Linked DNA regions of Homo sapiens: regions 2 and 3 are each linked to region 1. Evidence: fine-mapped expression QTL. A gene starts in region 1. Each other region holds a variant in brackets. All regions are shown on one strand. Distances are between the middles of the regions.

The links. PIP is the estimated chance that this variant, and not a neighbour inherited with it, causes the effect.
Region 2: its variant is the best candidate, but not a certain one, in a credible set for the expression of ITGAV in spleen (GTEx, PIP 0.68).
Region 3: its variant is the best candidate, but not a certain one, in a credible set for the expression of ITGAV in anterior cingulate cortex (GTEx, PIP 0.68).

Annotation. Positions count from the first base shown.
Region 1 is chr2:186,587,160-186,592,390 of GRCh38, reverse strand. It overlaps ITGAV (integrin subunit alpha V), which reads right to left and starts at 2,335. Exons shown (of 30, transcript NM_002210.5): 1 at 1,868-2,335. The coding sequence starts at 2,052. LOC124906105 (a long non-coding RNA gene) reads left to right here and starts at 2,495. Exons shown (of 2, transcript XR_007087465.1): 1 at 2,495-3,401. RefSeq lists an enhancer at 1,853-1,912 and a silencer at 2,043-2,272.
Region 2 is chr2:186,665,961-186,671,191 of GRCh38, reverse strand. ITGAV (integrin subunit alpha V) reads right to left here. Exons shown (of 30, transcript NM_002210.5): 22 at 4,409-4,488; 23 at 3,962-4,042; 24 at 3,416-3,521; 25 at 2,272-2,430; 26 at 1,378-1,491. Among named protein-coding and RNA genes, the nearest start is that of FAM171B, 25 kb to the left of the region's middle. The variant A/G (reference allele first, on the strand shown) is at 2,178.
Region 3 is chr2:186,557,093-186,562,323 of GRCh38, reverse strand. No RefSeq gene overlaps it. Among named protein-coding and RNA genes, the nearest start is that of ITGAV, 30 kb to the left of the region's middle. RefSeq lists a silencer at 2,294-2,343. The variant C/T (reference allele first, on the strand shown) is at 2,340.

The DNA.
Region 1 (5,231 bases):
CACAATCTCCATTCACTGCAACCTCAACTTTCCAAGCAATCCTCTCATCTCAGCCTCCCGCAGAGCGAGGATTACAGGTGTGCACCACCATGCCCGGTTAATTTTTGTATTTTTTTGTAGTGACAGGGTTTCACCATGTTGCCCAGGTTGGTCTCAAATTCCTGAGCTCAGACAATCTGCCCATCTTGGCCTCCCAAGGTGCTGGGATTACAGGTGTGAGCCACTGTGCCTGGCCTGAAGTATTTAAATGCTAATTTTTGACTGAAGACATATATTTTCAAAATCATTAGAATTTCTCTACAAATTATATCTCACATTGAACCCTTGGGAGCAACTAAAATGTTCTGTCTCATGAAGGTATACACTTGAAAGTATCTGGAAACAAAAATGTTTAAAGATAACGTTTGGTATTCACCCCTGTGGTTAAAAACAATAAATAAAAAGATAATGCTGACTAAAATGACTAAATGGAATGTGAAATTGGTAAATGTTGCCTAAATAATGATTATTTTTATCATGTTGGAAAATCTGTGCTCCAGGTCTCACAGAAAGCACTGTAACTGCTAACAACAAATAAAACTAAGCTTGCTACATAAAATAATGTCTCCACTAACAAAGTTTCCATTAACTGCATCTAATCTATGTATTGCTGCAAAGGTTGTTACCAAAATGAATGATACTCAGTAACATTCAGAAAAACACTAAGACTAAATTCTGCTGAGTGTCCTAACAGTCATAGAAAACCATTGAGACCACCCTCAAATTAGGCATGTGTGTAGTAGAAGATGGTCCTATCCACGTACTAACCGTCAAAATTTTCCTCCACTTCACCCCGAAGGGATATCTTATACAGAAAATATGGAAACAAAAATATGTTGTTACAAGGTCTAAGCGTTTAGAAGGCACCCTAAGAACAGTTTCTCTCTTGAAAACAAGATTTAAACATCATTAAAAAAACAGTCAACATTCATTAAAACAGTACTCCTAACGCTAACATGGGGGTGGGGTGGTGAGAATGATGTCAGCATTCAGTAAAGTCGGAGACAATTTCTAACACAATAATGGCAATAACTGTTATAAATCCTGACGGCCCTTGCAACGCGGAACGTTGGCAACTTGAAAACATAACTGAATTATTAAATACTGCAGTATTCAAATGACCTGCAGCGAGTGAAAACTCAGCAAACACCCTTGTTCCTTCTGAACAATGACCTAAATAGTGAATCACTATAAAAAGAACAGATGACACATTCAATTCATCTGTTCAACCTCAAATGTGCAAATGTCTGACAGTCCCAGAGATAAGACACAATGAATTCAATAGGACAGTATGGTCATTTTAAGTCATCAGAATGTCTGCAAAAGGAGTAAGGAGAAACAGAATCAGACAGAGGCGGAAAGAGTGGGGGAGGGCTTGTTTAGGGAGACTGAAAAGGACGGGCGTTAAGCCTGTAAAGCAGAAAAAGGCTACCAAGAAGCCTAACTGGTAGAGGAGAAAAAGAAGTTCGGGGATGATATTGACCAAATCCTCGACACTGGCACAGGAGGCGGGGAGTCCGGCAAGACCAGCCTTTGTTGATTTCCCACTTTCCCCGATTTTTAAGCACAGGTCTGCTTCAAAGCTCTCCCGCTGCCCCTAACCAATTTTAAGAGGTGAGAAGCGGGGTGTAACTGGGTGATGGGTACCAAAGGGAGTTCATTTCCCCAAATATTTCCTCCACCCAGGATATAAACCACTCTGAGAGGTAGGATGGGTGAGACAGACAGACGCCGGGATCTCTCGGAAATCAATCCCAATGGAGAAACGCTGGGTGGGTGCGCGCGGTGGGGGAGGGGGCCGGCTCCAGTTCCAAGTGCGGCCACTTACGAAGACGCGCTGGGCACGAAGAAATCCACGGCGAAGCCGAAGTAACTTCCCTCGGGGCCAGAGTACTCGGCAGGACTGTCCACGTCTAGGTTGAAGGCGCGGCACAGAGGTAGCAGGAGTCCCGAGAGAAGAAGCGGGAGGCCGCGGGGACCGAGGCGCAGCCGTCGCCGCGGCGGAAAAGCCATCGCCGAAGTGCGCGCGGGACGCCAAGCCGGGAGCGGTAGCCACCTCCCCCCGCCCCAGCGAGGCGCCCAGTGCCCGCGGCCCGCCGCCTGCGCGCGCCCAAACTTGCCGGCCGCTCTCTTCTCGGCTAGCCCGGGACAGCTCCGGGGCAGGCAAGAGGGCTGAGCTTCGGAGCGACCGCCAGGGACGAGGGGCGCAGAGCGCGCGGGGCGGGGACAGCAGCGCAGACGGTCCTTTGCTTCCCTCCGGCTCCGCCGCTCCACGCAGCGTCTGAGGCTGGGGACTGCCGGGGTGAGCGCCGCACCTCAGGCCTGAGAGCCGCGGCGGCACTGGGAGGAGACCTGGAAGGAGGAGGAGCCGGCCCGGGAGGCTGCTGTGGAGCTGGAGGAGGAAGTGGGGGAGGAGAGGCGCCCTTCTACAGGGGAGAGCTCAGCGTACTTCCGTGAGTGCAGTCGCCGCCTGTCCCGAGACCTGGGCGTCTGTGCAGGGGCCCCCAGCTCCTGAGCCTGGGTCAGCGGCAGCGCTCCTGGACGAAGGCCTCAGGCTGAGCACCTGAGGAGGCGTGGGGGCGGGGGCGGGGAGATACGGTCCAGCGTCCCAATCTACCCGCGTCCACGGGAGTAGCAAGGGCACCCACGTTCCCTTGTCCCGCCGGGAACTTCCGTGCGACTGTTGTTTAAAAATGAGGAAAGCTTTTTATCAGTTTCTCGTGTTTCTGCTGCTTAGCCTGGCAGGCTCTCACGAACGAAACCCTGTTAATTAATGGTCGTTAATTACACTCCATTCCACAAACACTGAACTTAATTACGGATTTCCAGAAAGCCAGCATAGCCTCTTGCAAGTGAGGTATGTAAAGCTTAACTTAGTAGTCAAAGAAAGGATTCGCAGGGCAAAGAATTGGCAGTGATCGTTTTAAATCAAGTCAGAATAATCGAAGCCTTATTCCCAGTTTGTTAGCTGCGGTTGTATGATTTAGAAACACTGATTTGTTGATTTAGGATGTTTGGATAGACATAATTTCAGAGCTGGAAGAAGGACCGCACACCGGTGAAATAAGGCCCCGCGTGCTTGTTTGCCACTGGTGTGTTTCATCAAGCCTTGACAACACTGGACTGAGAGAGAGGGCCTTGAGGACAGGAACCTTGACCTTTTTCTTAGTGTTCTTATTTCTAGCACCTTGCCAAGCAGATAGTAGTCGATCAATAAAATGTCCAATCAGTGAATGAATAGCAGACGAAATGAGCAAAGTGCCCAGAGAAGTGACTCTTCCATATTTCAAGTGTTTCATGTGCTACAGAATCTGTTGAACAAGGTGAAGTTTAAGTGCATTGTGTGGACTTACAACTTACAAGTAAGTACTGGAACAGTAATTTCTGTTTTCCCAAAGTAACTATTAAAACTCAATCATAATATACATTAATAACTATCAAATAATCCTGTGAAAGGATATGTATATAAATGAAAGTGAAATGCCTAATTCGAATTTGTAATATTTATTGGACCAGGTCCAGGTGCTCATGCTGGCAATCTCAGCACTTTGGGAGACTGAGGCAGGAGGATTGCTTGAGACCGGGAGTTCCAGGGGAACATAGGGAGACCTCATCTCTACAAAAATTTAAAAATTAGCTGGGAGTGTGGTGCATGCCTGTAGTCCCAGCTATGCCGGAGGCTAAGGCAGGTAGATAGATCGCTTAGGCTCAGGAGTTCCAGGTTATGATAAGTCATGAGCCTGCCACTGCACTCCAGCCTGAGTGACAGAACAAGACCCTGTGTTTAAAAAAAAAAAAGGCCGGGCGAGGTGGCTCATGCCTGTAGTCCTAGCACTTTGGGAGGCTGAGGCCGGCAAATTGCCTGAGCTCGGGAGTTCGAGACCAGCCTGGGCAACACAGTGAAATCCCGTCTCTACTAAAATACAAAAAATTAGCCGGGCGTGGCGGCATGCGCCTGCAGTCCCAGCTACTCAGGAGGCTGAGGCAGGAGAATTGCTTGAACCCGGAAGGCGGAGGCTGCAGTAAGCTGAGATGGTGCCACTGCACTCCAGCCTGGGCCACAGAGTGAGACTCCATCTCAAAAAAAAAATGCATTAAATATTTCCATTTTTAAATTTGACTAAAAGATATGCAGCAAAACCTTTGGCATGTTTTACAAGGCATGGTCTAGCATCTGCCTGAAAGAAATTACTGATTGAGAGAAGAAATCCTACACAAATCCTTACACATAAATGCAAATACAGCTTATTTCTCACCTTCTTTCCTAATACACCAAAGAGGCTATTGATATGTATGCATAAACCCAAAGGGTCTTTTATATCTTAAAAACATGACAACCAGTCTACCTGGAAATCCATCCAGGTAAGGAAGACAGAAGAGTTTAAACTCTGGCTAGATCCAGTAAGTCTCCCACTCCTCAACTTCTGATCGCAGGACAGGGGTCCGACAGACCAAGGTGGAGTGAAGAAATGTGAGAGGACCAGGGAAAAGAAGAAGCCCACGAAATGACAACACATGTACACCCACCAAAACTTGGGTGAACAACACACCCCCAAATAGGGCTACAACTTACTGAAAGCACTTACTGTTGAGCCATTCTTTATGAGTTTATTTTGAATGAGCAGTCTTGAAAATCAAGGAATTTGTTTTTTTTAAAAAAGCAAATAGTCCAGGCACTGTGGCTCATGCCTGTAATCCCAGCATTTTGGGAGGCCGAGGTGGGTGGATCACCTGAGGTCAGGAGTTCAAGACCAGCCTGGCCAACACAGTGAAACCCCGTCTCTACTAAAAATACAAAAATTGGCCGGGCGCAGTGGCTCACTCACACCTGTAATCCCAGCACTTTGGGAGTCCAAAGTGGGTGGATCACGATGTCAGGAGTTCAAGACCAGCCTGGCCAAGATGGTGAAAGCCTATCTCTACTAAAAATACAAAAATTAGCTGGGTGCAGTGGCAGGCACCTGTAATCCCAGCTACTTGGGAGGCTGAGGCAGGAGAATCACTTGAACCTGGGAAGCAGAGGTTTCAGTGAGCCAAGATCGTGCCACTGCACTTCAGCCTGGATGACAGAATGAGACTCCATCTCAAAAAAGAAAAAACAGTAGCCAGGCATGGTGGTGTGTGCCTGTAATCTCAGCTACTCAGGAGACTGAGGCAGGAGAATTGCTTGAACCCGGAAGGCAGAGGCTACA
Region 2 (5,231 bases), 79 kb before region 1:
GGGGCTTCTATAGCATACAAAGTATAGTGGGGAGAAAGGCAGAAATACAGAGGCCAACCAGGGGTCTGGCAATAGTCCAATCGAGAAGGGAAAGGAGCCTGGGTTAGGTTGTGTTAGTGATGAAACTGGTGAGAAGGGGCCAGATTCTAGGTATTTTGAAAGAAAATACTGATGCAATTTGCTGAAATACAAGACGTGAGATTTGAGAGAAAGAGAGGAGTCAAGCATGAGGTCCAGGTGTTAGAGAATGAAGTTGGTATTTACTAAAATCAACTAAGAACTTTATGGAAAGAGCAGACTTGGGAAAACCCAAGGGTATATATTTAGAATTGTTTGAGATTCCTATTAGATATTTAAAAGCAGTTTCTAGTAGGCAGTTGGATATTGGAATCTGAAGTTCAATGCAGAAGATCAGACTGGAAATATAAATCAAAGCATCTACACCACATGGTATTTACAGCCATGAGAGTCAACAGAAGGAAGTGATTAAGTGAACCAAAGCCACTAGGCAATTGAATGGTTGAGGACTAACAAGAACCACAGAATTTGGTGATGTAAAAGTAACTAGTGATCACTATTGAACATAAACAGTGCTGGGCATGGTGGTTCATGCCTGTCATCCCAGCACTTTAGGAGGCTGAGGTGGGCAGATCGCTTGAGCTCAGGAATTTGAGACCAGCCTGGGCAACATGGTGAAACCTCATCTCAACAAAAAATACAAAACTTAGCTGGGCATGGGGGAGAGCGCCTATAGTCCTAGCTACTTGGGGGACTGATAGGGGAGGATTGCTTGAGCCTGGGAGGTCAAGGCCTCAGTGAGCTGTGTTTGTGTCATTGCACTCCAGCCTGGGTGACAAAGTGAGGCTCTGTGTCAAAAAACAAACAAACAAACAAACAAAAAACACTATACCAGGTTCTCTACTAGAGATCTGGAGATTTGTTAATTAAAAGAAAAAAGAAAAACAATTGCCTTTAAAAACATTATAGCCATTATATAGGCTAACTCAACAAAGGTTAATCAAGTGCTAATTATTATTCCAATGTATTTTTGTTGGGACCTTCTGGATTTTTTAGTATCGTACTAAAGCCTCAGAGATTAGGAGGAGGCCCAGAAAGAGGACAGTTAAAGAACTAGAGTAGGAGAATCAAAGTTGGGACATAAACTAGTTTTATTAGCCATCTACAAAAATAGCTCATTTGAAGAAAATATGGCATTAATCTGACTAGGAAAAAGGAAAGTGAGAGGAATGCATGGTATAAAAATAAATGTAGTTGTTCAAGCACAGCTGTTGTTATTTTTGAAATGTTCTTTGGCGTCAGTTCTATAGTCACATATTTTTAAATGTCTATGGTGCACATATTTGAAATGGCACTTACCAAAGTGTGAATATCTCCTTCACTGAGGGCAAGATCCCGCTTAGTGATGAGATGGTCCCGCTCACCTTGCCCGGCAACCGTGTCATTCTTTTCAGTTGTTTGCAAAGATGAGATCTAATGCAATCACATTAATAAAATGGTGGTAAATGATAATGAAAAACATTTTACATCAGCATTTTGATATAAACTCTTAGATATGATTAAAAAATAGTGAATGAAAATTTAGTATGACAGAATATTTACCACTCAGTATATAGTGAGCAGTAAGGACAGAAAATAAAGATTAGAGTCTTTAATATGTACCAAAAAAGTTAGCTCTCCCTAACCATTATTTTCAGCCCTTGCTTAGCTAGAGTGGAAACTGATGAAACATACAGAAATGGCCTGAAATTCCACAGTACATTTGTGATGTCAATCATGGGTATATCTTTTATTTTGTTTCTTCACCTTTCCTTAGATCATATTGTGTAATAGTTTCTAGTGCAAATCTATGATGGAGATGACTATATCCAAAAGTCAAGATAATCATGAGTAAAATGGTATAGCTTATCCCAAAGGTAGAAATTTTAACAACAAAACACCCTTGATGTGATATTATGCCCTGAAGAAACAACAACGTGATGGAGCCAAGGTCAAACTGAGTCACTGAAGGACACATCTCATGAGGCTCAGTAAGCACTCTATGAAGATGTGGTTCACTAGACATCACAGAATCAATTCTTACCCATTATACAAATGAACTTATCCTAAGTGTACTGCTTATGAACTAAACCATTTTTTGCAGAGTGGGTTTTATATTA[A/G]AATAGTTGTTTTATTTTATGAATTTCTTTTACAGGTTTAGAAAGAAGGCAATGAAATATCATTGTAATGAAGAGCTGCTATTAAGCATATTACCTTAATTCTCAAAGGGTTGATCTCCATATCTGAAGTGCAGTTCATTGGTCCATCAATATCATAATGAAGGATATACAACAGAGTGTTATTATTATATTTGTAAGGCCACTGAAGATGGAGCATTGCCTTGCTGAATGAACTTGGACCATTGTTTCTCAGCTAAGGAGAAAAAAGAAAATGTATCTACACCTTGGGCAAAAATCTGTTCCATAATCCTTCCCCTACATCAACTTTAGAAATCATGTTAGCAATAGGTTTTAAATAACAGCAATTTCCACAGTTAACCTCTAATTACAATGTGACCATTTTTATGCAAAAATGATCAAACTCAACATTTGTCTCTAACACAGAGTAATATGTGTCAGGATAAAAATATAAACAAGGTTGGGCACAGTGGCTCATGCCTGTAATCCCAGCACTTTGGGAGGCCGAGGCGGGCGGATCTCTTGAGGTCAGGAGTTCATGTCCAGCCTGGCCAACGTGGTGAAACCTGTCGGTGAAACCCTGTCCCTACTAAAAATACAAAAATTAGCCGGGCATGGTGGTGCACACGTGTAATCCCAGCTACTCAGCAAGCTGAGGCAGGAGAATCGCTTGAACCCGGGAGGTGGAGTTTGCAGTGAGCTGAGATCGCGCCACTGCACTCCAGCCTGGGCGACAGAGCAAGACTTCACCTCAAAAAAAAAAAAAAAAAAAAAAAAAAATATATATATATATATATATATATATATATATGTATGTATGTATAAACAAAAGGCAAAATATTTAAAAGTTATTAATGAAGGATGACAAAGAAAATTTCTTCCTATAGAAATAGTTTTGATTATTTGCCATAGGTATTTTCAATTTTTAGCCAGAACTACAAAATGCCCATGAGAAAGTACCAATGACATTTCTTTATTCAAGTAGAACTAATTTATTTTAAACAACAAATTATATAAACTGCTTTATTTAAACAAGTCTATTTGTCAAATAAAAATGAATTTATGTATAGGGAAAATATTCAAAGAAATCTCTGACACATACTTAACCAATGTAGAGTTTACATAAAAATTACATAGAATTTTTTTTTTAAAGTAGCTTAGTTGTTCCTCTCTTCGTTGGCTTGCTCACGAGGTTTGAGTAAAATCTAACAACTGCAAACCTCATAGATGTGCTGAACAACTGGCCCAACATCTTCTTCAGTCTCAGGGTTCTCCTTGTGCTCCCAGTTTGGAATCGGAAGAAAGACATGATCAGGACTCGAGACTCTAAACAATGACCAAAGAAAACCTACCATGAATATCAAAATGATATAGTCAGTTCATTTTCAAAAGTACCCCATATTCATTACTCAAATAAATAAAATTAGATTTAATTTTAAAAAATACTTTAAAAGAAAACTAATGAACACACACATGCACAAAAACTGCTCTTATGAAATGTACACGTAACAGGTGAATTGACAATTTGTGTAAAAGTTCAACAAAATTATTTTGTGCATGTTGTTGCCATGTCTTGTTCCTTTTGAGGATCACCCAGTATTGGGGGTTTGGAACATACCTAGGATTTTATTTCTACAGAAGCTAATGCCCTAGTAAAACCACCACTAAACATGCAGGGTCTATTGTCCAGAAAAGGCTAAGGCCTGACAGTTACCTTTAAAAAGCAATCATGAGAATGAGATACTCAACTAAGTATTCATACTGACCCTCTTATCTCAACTGCAGCTAAAACAGCAAGATCAACTTTGTGAGATACAACTGGGCTTACTTTGTCAAATAGATTTGAGCTGAAAAAGAAAAAAAAAAACTTAAAAATGAATTATGCATAACAACCAAGAACATACAGAGGCAAACCCAGTGAAACTAAAAATTAACAAACGAAACAAGTGTAAAGCTTATACCTCAAAATAGTTATTTTCATTAACACTTAATTCCAAGAAGATGAACATTTTCTTTCTGGATTTTAAATTTTGTTTTACAAACTCAAATCTGACAATAAAATTATTCTTATAATGTAAATATTGATTTTAAAATGCTATAGTCAAGCAATAAAATTTAATCTGCTACTTTATATTTAAAGTATATTACATAGTATATTTACAACAAATAATATTTATTTGATAGTTATAAGTGAATATAAGTTGTTTTCATACCTTTGGATTTGTAAGTCAAATTTCACAGAAGTATCCATCTCTGACTGCTGGTGCACACTGAAACGAAGACCAGCTAAGAGCTAAAGGAGAGAGGAAAAGATAGTAATGCTAGTCAATGTCTAATTAGCAAAATTTCAAATCCAATGTCTAAATAAAAAATAATGTTCTAAAATGGGGTTTTTCTGAGCTTACAATAAAACTGAACAAAGATAACTAAATCTTATTTTCTATCAAACCTATTTTACTTAATATACCTGGACCAATCCATAAGAGAGCCTATTTAACAACAATTATTAATCATAATTATACCTCCTTATAATACTAACCATCTTTCTAAAAAGTGCAAAAGTAAATGTTTGTTGATCCAGTGAAAGTCTAGCAACTGGGTACAATAATTTGATAACACGAAGCTAACCACCAAAGTATGTGCTGTGTTCATAGGCCAGGAAAGAAGAAATGGATGGTTTACTAGAGTAAGGGAACATGGCTAAAGAAGGCATGAGTAGGGCCACAACCAGAATTTCTCCACACACCTCTCATAACACTCCCAACACCAAATATCCTAATTCCTGCAGGCAGAAAATTGGTAGATTTTAAATAAAACAATTGAACCACCAGGTACAAAAAAGAAGGCTTCTTGGGGATCACACAAATGACATATAAAAACAGTACTTCCTGGGTTCTGCCTCCCACTCCACAAAACCTGGAGCTGGCTACTTGTAATAAGCAGAAACTATATAATAACCAGAAAGTTAGAGAGAATGAGAATATGAGAAAATAAAAGGCATGCTCATTGTTAATAAAACATTGAATACACGTGAAA
Region 3 (5,231 bases), 30 kb after region 1:
TCAACTGAATTTTTCAGCTTCAGAATTTCTGCTTCATTTTTTAAAGTTATTCCAATCTCTTGGTTAAATTTATCTGCTAGAACTCTGAATTCCTTCTCTGTGTTATCTTGAATTTCACTGAGCTTCCTCAAAACACCTATTTTGAATTCTCTCTGTGAAAGGTCACATATTTCTGGCTCTCTGGGGTTTGTCACTGGTGCCTTGTTTAGTTTGTTTGGTGAGGTCATGTTTTCCTGTATGGTCTTGATGCTCGTGGATGTTCTTCAGTGTGTGAGCATTGAAGAGTTAGGTATTTACTCTAATCTTCGCAGTCTGGGCTTATTTGCTCCTGTCTTTCTTGTGAAGGCTTTTGAAGTATTCACAGAGAATTGAATGTTGTAACGTAAGTCTTTAGTCACTGCAGCCGTATGTGCATTAGGACACACCCCAAAGCTAGTAACACCCTGACTCTTGTAAGCTTGCAAAAATATTGCCTTAGTGGTCTTGGGTAAAACCCATGAAAATTCTCTTAATTACCAGGCAGAGACCCTTGTTCACTTCCCTTACTTTCCCCTAAATAAACAGTCTCTCTGGGCTGAACTTCCTGGAGTCGGGGGAGGGGTAACACAATCATTCCTGTGGCCATCACTGCTGTGTCTGTGCTGGGTCATACCTGAAGCCAGCACAGTACTGGGTCTCGCCCAAGGGCTGTGGTAACTATTGCCTGGCTACCACTGATGTTTATTCAAGGCCCTAGGGGTCTTTAATCTGCACATGTCACAATTCAGTTATCTTTTTTCAAAATCTAAGTTTCCACACACAGCACTGAGATAATTCAGTTTTAATAATGACCTCTTTGAGTGCTGTATCATATTTGGAGGAGAGGAGACACAATCTGCCCTGACTAGGAAACACTTAGAGATACAGCACACTCATTTGATCACATCTTACTACCCGGCATCAACCACATAATTCCCACATTTTATTATTCTATGTGTTCAGTAACATTTTGAATACATTATGGAAGACCCATAAGGGAACATAATGAAAAGTGTGGGAAGAACAACATGTAGAATTAAATGCATGGAGATTCTGTGAACGAAGAGATAAGTACCTGTAAAATAATGCTAATCTGTGAGAAGGGCAAAACAACAAATTTGTCATTAATAACAACCTTTGTGGTTCCTTGCACTGGAAACTATATTATTTGAAAATGATATAGTTACTAAATGTCCAATACAGCAAACCTCATAAAAATGTTTGAAATTAAAAATCTAGCTCCATGACATGAATTTGGTCCAAAGTAATGGTGTTTCTGTGATGTGGTTATTGACAATACCATAGAGCAATAAACCTGACCAAATGCTTTCTCATTCTCCATCATTGTTTGGTTTGCACTAATCATCTATAAATTGCCTGTTTGTCAGAAATGGTAGAATAGTTAGGGAGGAAAAGAAGAGAGCTAACTGGAGCAGGATCCCCATTTTTTAAAGCAGTAAATACCTTCAGTTCTCTTCTTAAACATCACCTCCATGTCTCAATGTTCCATCTCCAACCCAGACTCCTACTCCAGTCATGCAAATAACCATACAAAACAAATGACAAATAGATCAGAAGTTTAATTGAAAAACAAGACATGTGTCATTCATTGTCACAGCCACTGATGGATCTGTTCACTTAATAATTCACAAAAAATCTTTCTGTTGACCTTACCAATTTCAACACGTTTTTGGTTATAACTTGTTAATTTCCCATAGAAAAGCAAGGATTTTATTTTACCTCAACATGTGATTTTTAGTGATATGCTCCCTCCAAAGAGACTTCACCACATCAAAAGGGTGACGTTTTCCTATGGAATTCATTAGTTCAGGTTTTATTTTATTATTTATTTATTTATTTATTTATTTATTTATTTATTTTTATTTTTTGAGACAGGGTCTCACTCTGTTGCCCAGGCTGGAGTGCAGTGGTACAAATACAGCTCACTGCAGCTTCGACCTCCTGGCTCAAGCATTCCTCCCACCTCAGCCTCTGGAGTAGCTGGGACCACAGGTATGTGCCACCAAGCCTGGTTAATTTTTTTAAAGTTTTGTAGAGATGAGATCCATGTTGCCCAGACTGGTCTTGAAATCCTGGGCTCGAGTAGTCTCCCACCTCAGCCTCCCAAAGTGGTGGGATTACAGGCGTGAGCCACTACCCCCAGCCTAGATTTTGATCAGTAGGAAGCTAGTGTGTCTTGATGTTCAGAAAATACAGCATGTGACTGACAAAGCTGAGTTTAGAGCTCTAGTTCTGTCACTTTCTAGTTGAATGACCTCAAGCAAGTTACTCAACCTTTCAGTGATTATGGTTTTCTTTTT[C/T]GGTTGTTCTATCTGGTCCTTTTTAAAATCCACCTGCTCTTTTTTCATTGTAATTATGTTCCATATGTTTCTCTTCCTTCATTCATGTGTTTACATATTTTCAAAATATTTATTTAATAACTTATTTCATATTATTCTGTTTTCTACATTCTTGGATGTACTAATTTCCCCCAGTTACAGTATCTGCTGGCTCTTGCTTATGACACATTATTTCCTTGTGTGTCTTAGAATTCATCAGGGTTTTGCTTCTCTTAGAAGAAATTCTTGTTGCCTTATTTATAGAAGTGATTTTCAGAATGCTCTTTCATTTGTTTCTACCAGGCATCCCTGATAATCACTGCTCCACAACTCAATAGTTCAGGCAGAGATGTTTCCTTGCTCCCTTCTGGGGACCTATATGCAGACTTTTTCTAGTTCTCCTTTCACTGATGGTGGGGACCTTTGTGAGACTTGGTTTATATACAGGTCTCAGTTTCAAATCTTTAACTTGTCTCTTGTTTCTTTTGAGTTTTAAAGTCCAAATCCCTAAATGTTAAGGCCTATTTCTTCTTAATGCCCAGAAGTTTCCCATTCCTTTTTGCAAGCTCACCTTGGTATTTACAATATAATTTATTTTATCTTGTTTAACAGTTCTAAGTAATGGTAGGAAGGGTTCTTTATTAGTTTAGGCCACCACACCCCCAGAACCATTTTCTTATCTCTGCATATATGAAATACAGAATATGATGGCATGTACCACACATAGTTTTGGTAAGGTTAAATAAGATAGAGATTTACATGCTTAGGGAAATGTCAAGTACATAATTAACTGCATAATAAATGTCAGTCTTTATTGTCTGGATGCTATCACTGGTATTGTTAGGGTTCTCTTGGAACTCATCTCTGACACAGCTCTTAATATTTTATTAGATCAACAATTTGTTGGGTCTGCTACGACTCACCAAATTAACTTGGCAATGATCTCTCTACTAGATGTAACAGGAATTCTGGTTGTCATGGTTGGCTCTTAGCAAACTGGAGAGACCTGGAGGGTTAGGATCTACCAGTATGCCTCACCTTGTAAAGGTGACAAATTGAGAATAAGCAAAACTAATCACTAAGAGATGGAGGAGAGTTAGTAAAAAACTAGTAAGATTCATTGCTAATTAGGGCCAGTTTTTAGTTTCCAGAATAAAGGGACAGATATCAGAAGCTAAAGTTGGATACTGCAAACTTTGTCTAATGAAGGCCAGTTATCCAAAGCCCAGAATCAAAGCTGAGTCATACTTAGGGAGTAGAGGAAGAAGCTTTCAAAGTATGAAGTATAAATGATGGCCTAATAGGACACGCAGCTTAAGTACTAAAGGAATTTCATCTGGAAACAAGGCAAAGTAGAGTGTGAAATGGGGATAGCCCCTGAGAAGTAGTTTTGAACAAGTAGGAAAAGTGGGATATGGACTTCCAAAATATGACAACAGTGAAAGCTCCCTGCAAAGGATGATGCCTAGAGTTAGATACCTGGAAGTCCAGGAACTTCAGGTACCTAAGACACCCAAGCAAAATTTATCCAAGTAAATAAAACACACCACATGAATTCTTAGGGAGAATACCTGATGTTATATAGGAATATCTCATCTTATTGGGCTTCATTTATTGCACTTCACATATATTGCATTTTTTACAAATTTAAGGTTTGTGGCAACCCTGCATCCAGCAAGTCTATCAGTGCTACTTTTCCAACAGCATTTGTTCATTTTGCAATATTCTTGCAAAATTTCAAACCTTTCCATTATTATTATATCAGTTATGATGATCTGTGATCAGTGATCTTTGATGCTACTATCATGATTGTTTAGAGGCACTAAGAACCCTGCCCATATAAGTGATCTTTGATGGTACTATCATAAATGTTTAGAGGGACTAAGAACCCTGACCATATAACACTGTGTGTGTTCTGACTACTCCACCAACTGGCCATTTCCCCACCTCTTTCCCTCTGCTAGGGCCTCCCTATTTCCTGAGACACAACAATATTGAAATCAGGCCAATTAATAACCCTACAGTGGCCTTCAAGCGTTCAAGTGAAAGGTAGAGTCCCATGTCTTTCACTTTAAATCAAAAGGTAGACATGATTAAGCTTAGTGAGGGAGGCATGACAAAAGCTGAGACAGGCCGAAAACTAGGACTCTTGCTGAACAGTTAGCCAAGTTGTGAATGCAAAGGAAACGTTATTGGAGAAAATAAGAAGTGCTACTCCAGTGAACACATAAATGATAAAGTGAAACAGCCTTATTGCTGATATTGAGAAAGTTTTCATCATCTGGATGGAAGACCAAACAGCCATACTATTTCCTTAAACCAAGTCTAATACAGAAGAAGGTACCAACTCTCTTCAATTATATGAAGGCTGAGAGAAGTGAGGAAACTGCAGAAGAAAATTTGAAGCTAGCACAGGTTGGTTCATGAGGTTTAAGGAAAGAAGCCATCTCCATAACATAAAGTGCAAGGTGAAGCAACGAGTGCTGATGTAGAAGCTATGGCAAGTTATCCAGAAGATCTAGCTAAGATGATTGAGGAAGGTGGCCACACTAAACAACAGATTTTCCATGTAGAAGAAACAGCCTTATATTGGAAGAAGATGCCATCTGGGACTTATTATGTCATCTAGGACTTATTATAGCTATTATCTAAAGAGAAGAAATTAATTACTGGCTTCAAAGAACTGGCTGACTGTCTTGTAGGTGTGATTGCAGCTAGTGACTTCAAGTTGAAGCTAATGCTCATTTACTATATCAAAAATCCCAAGGCCCATAAAAATTATGTTAAATCTACTCTGCCTGTGTTCTGTAAATGGAAGAACAAAGCCTGGATGACAGCACATCTGTTTATGGCATGGTTTACCGAATATTTAAA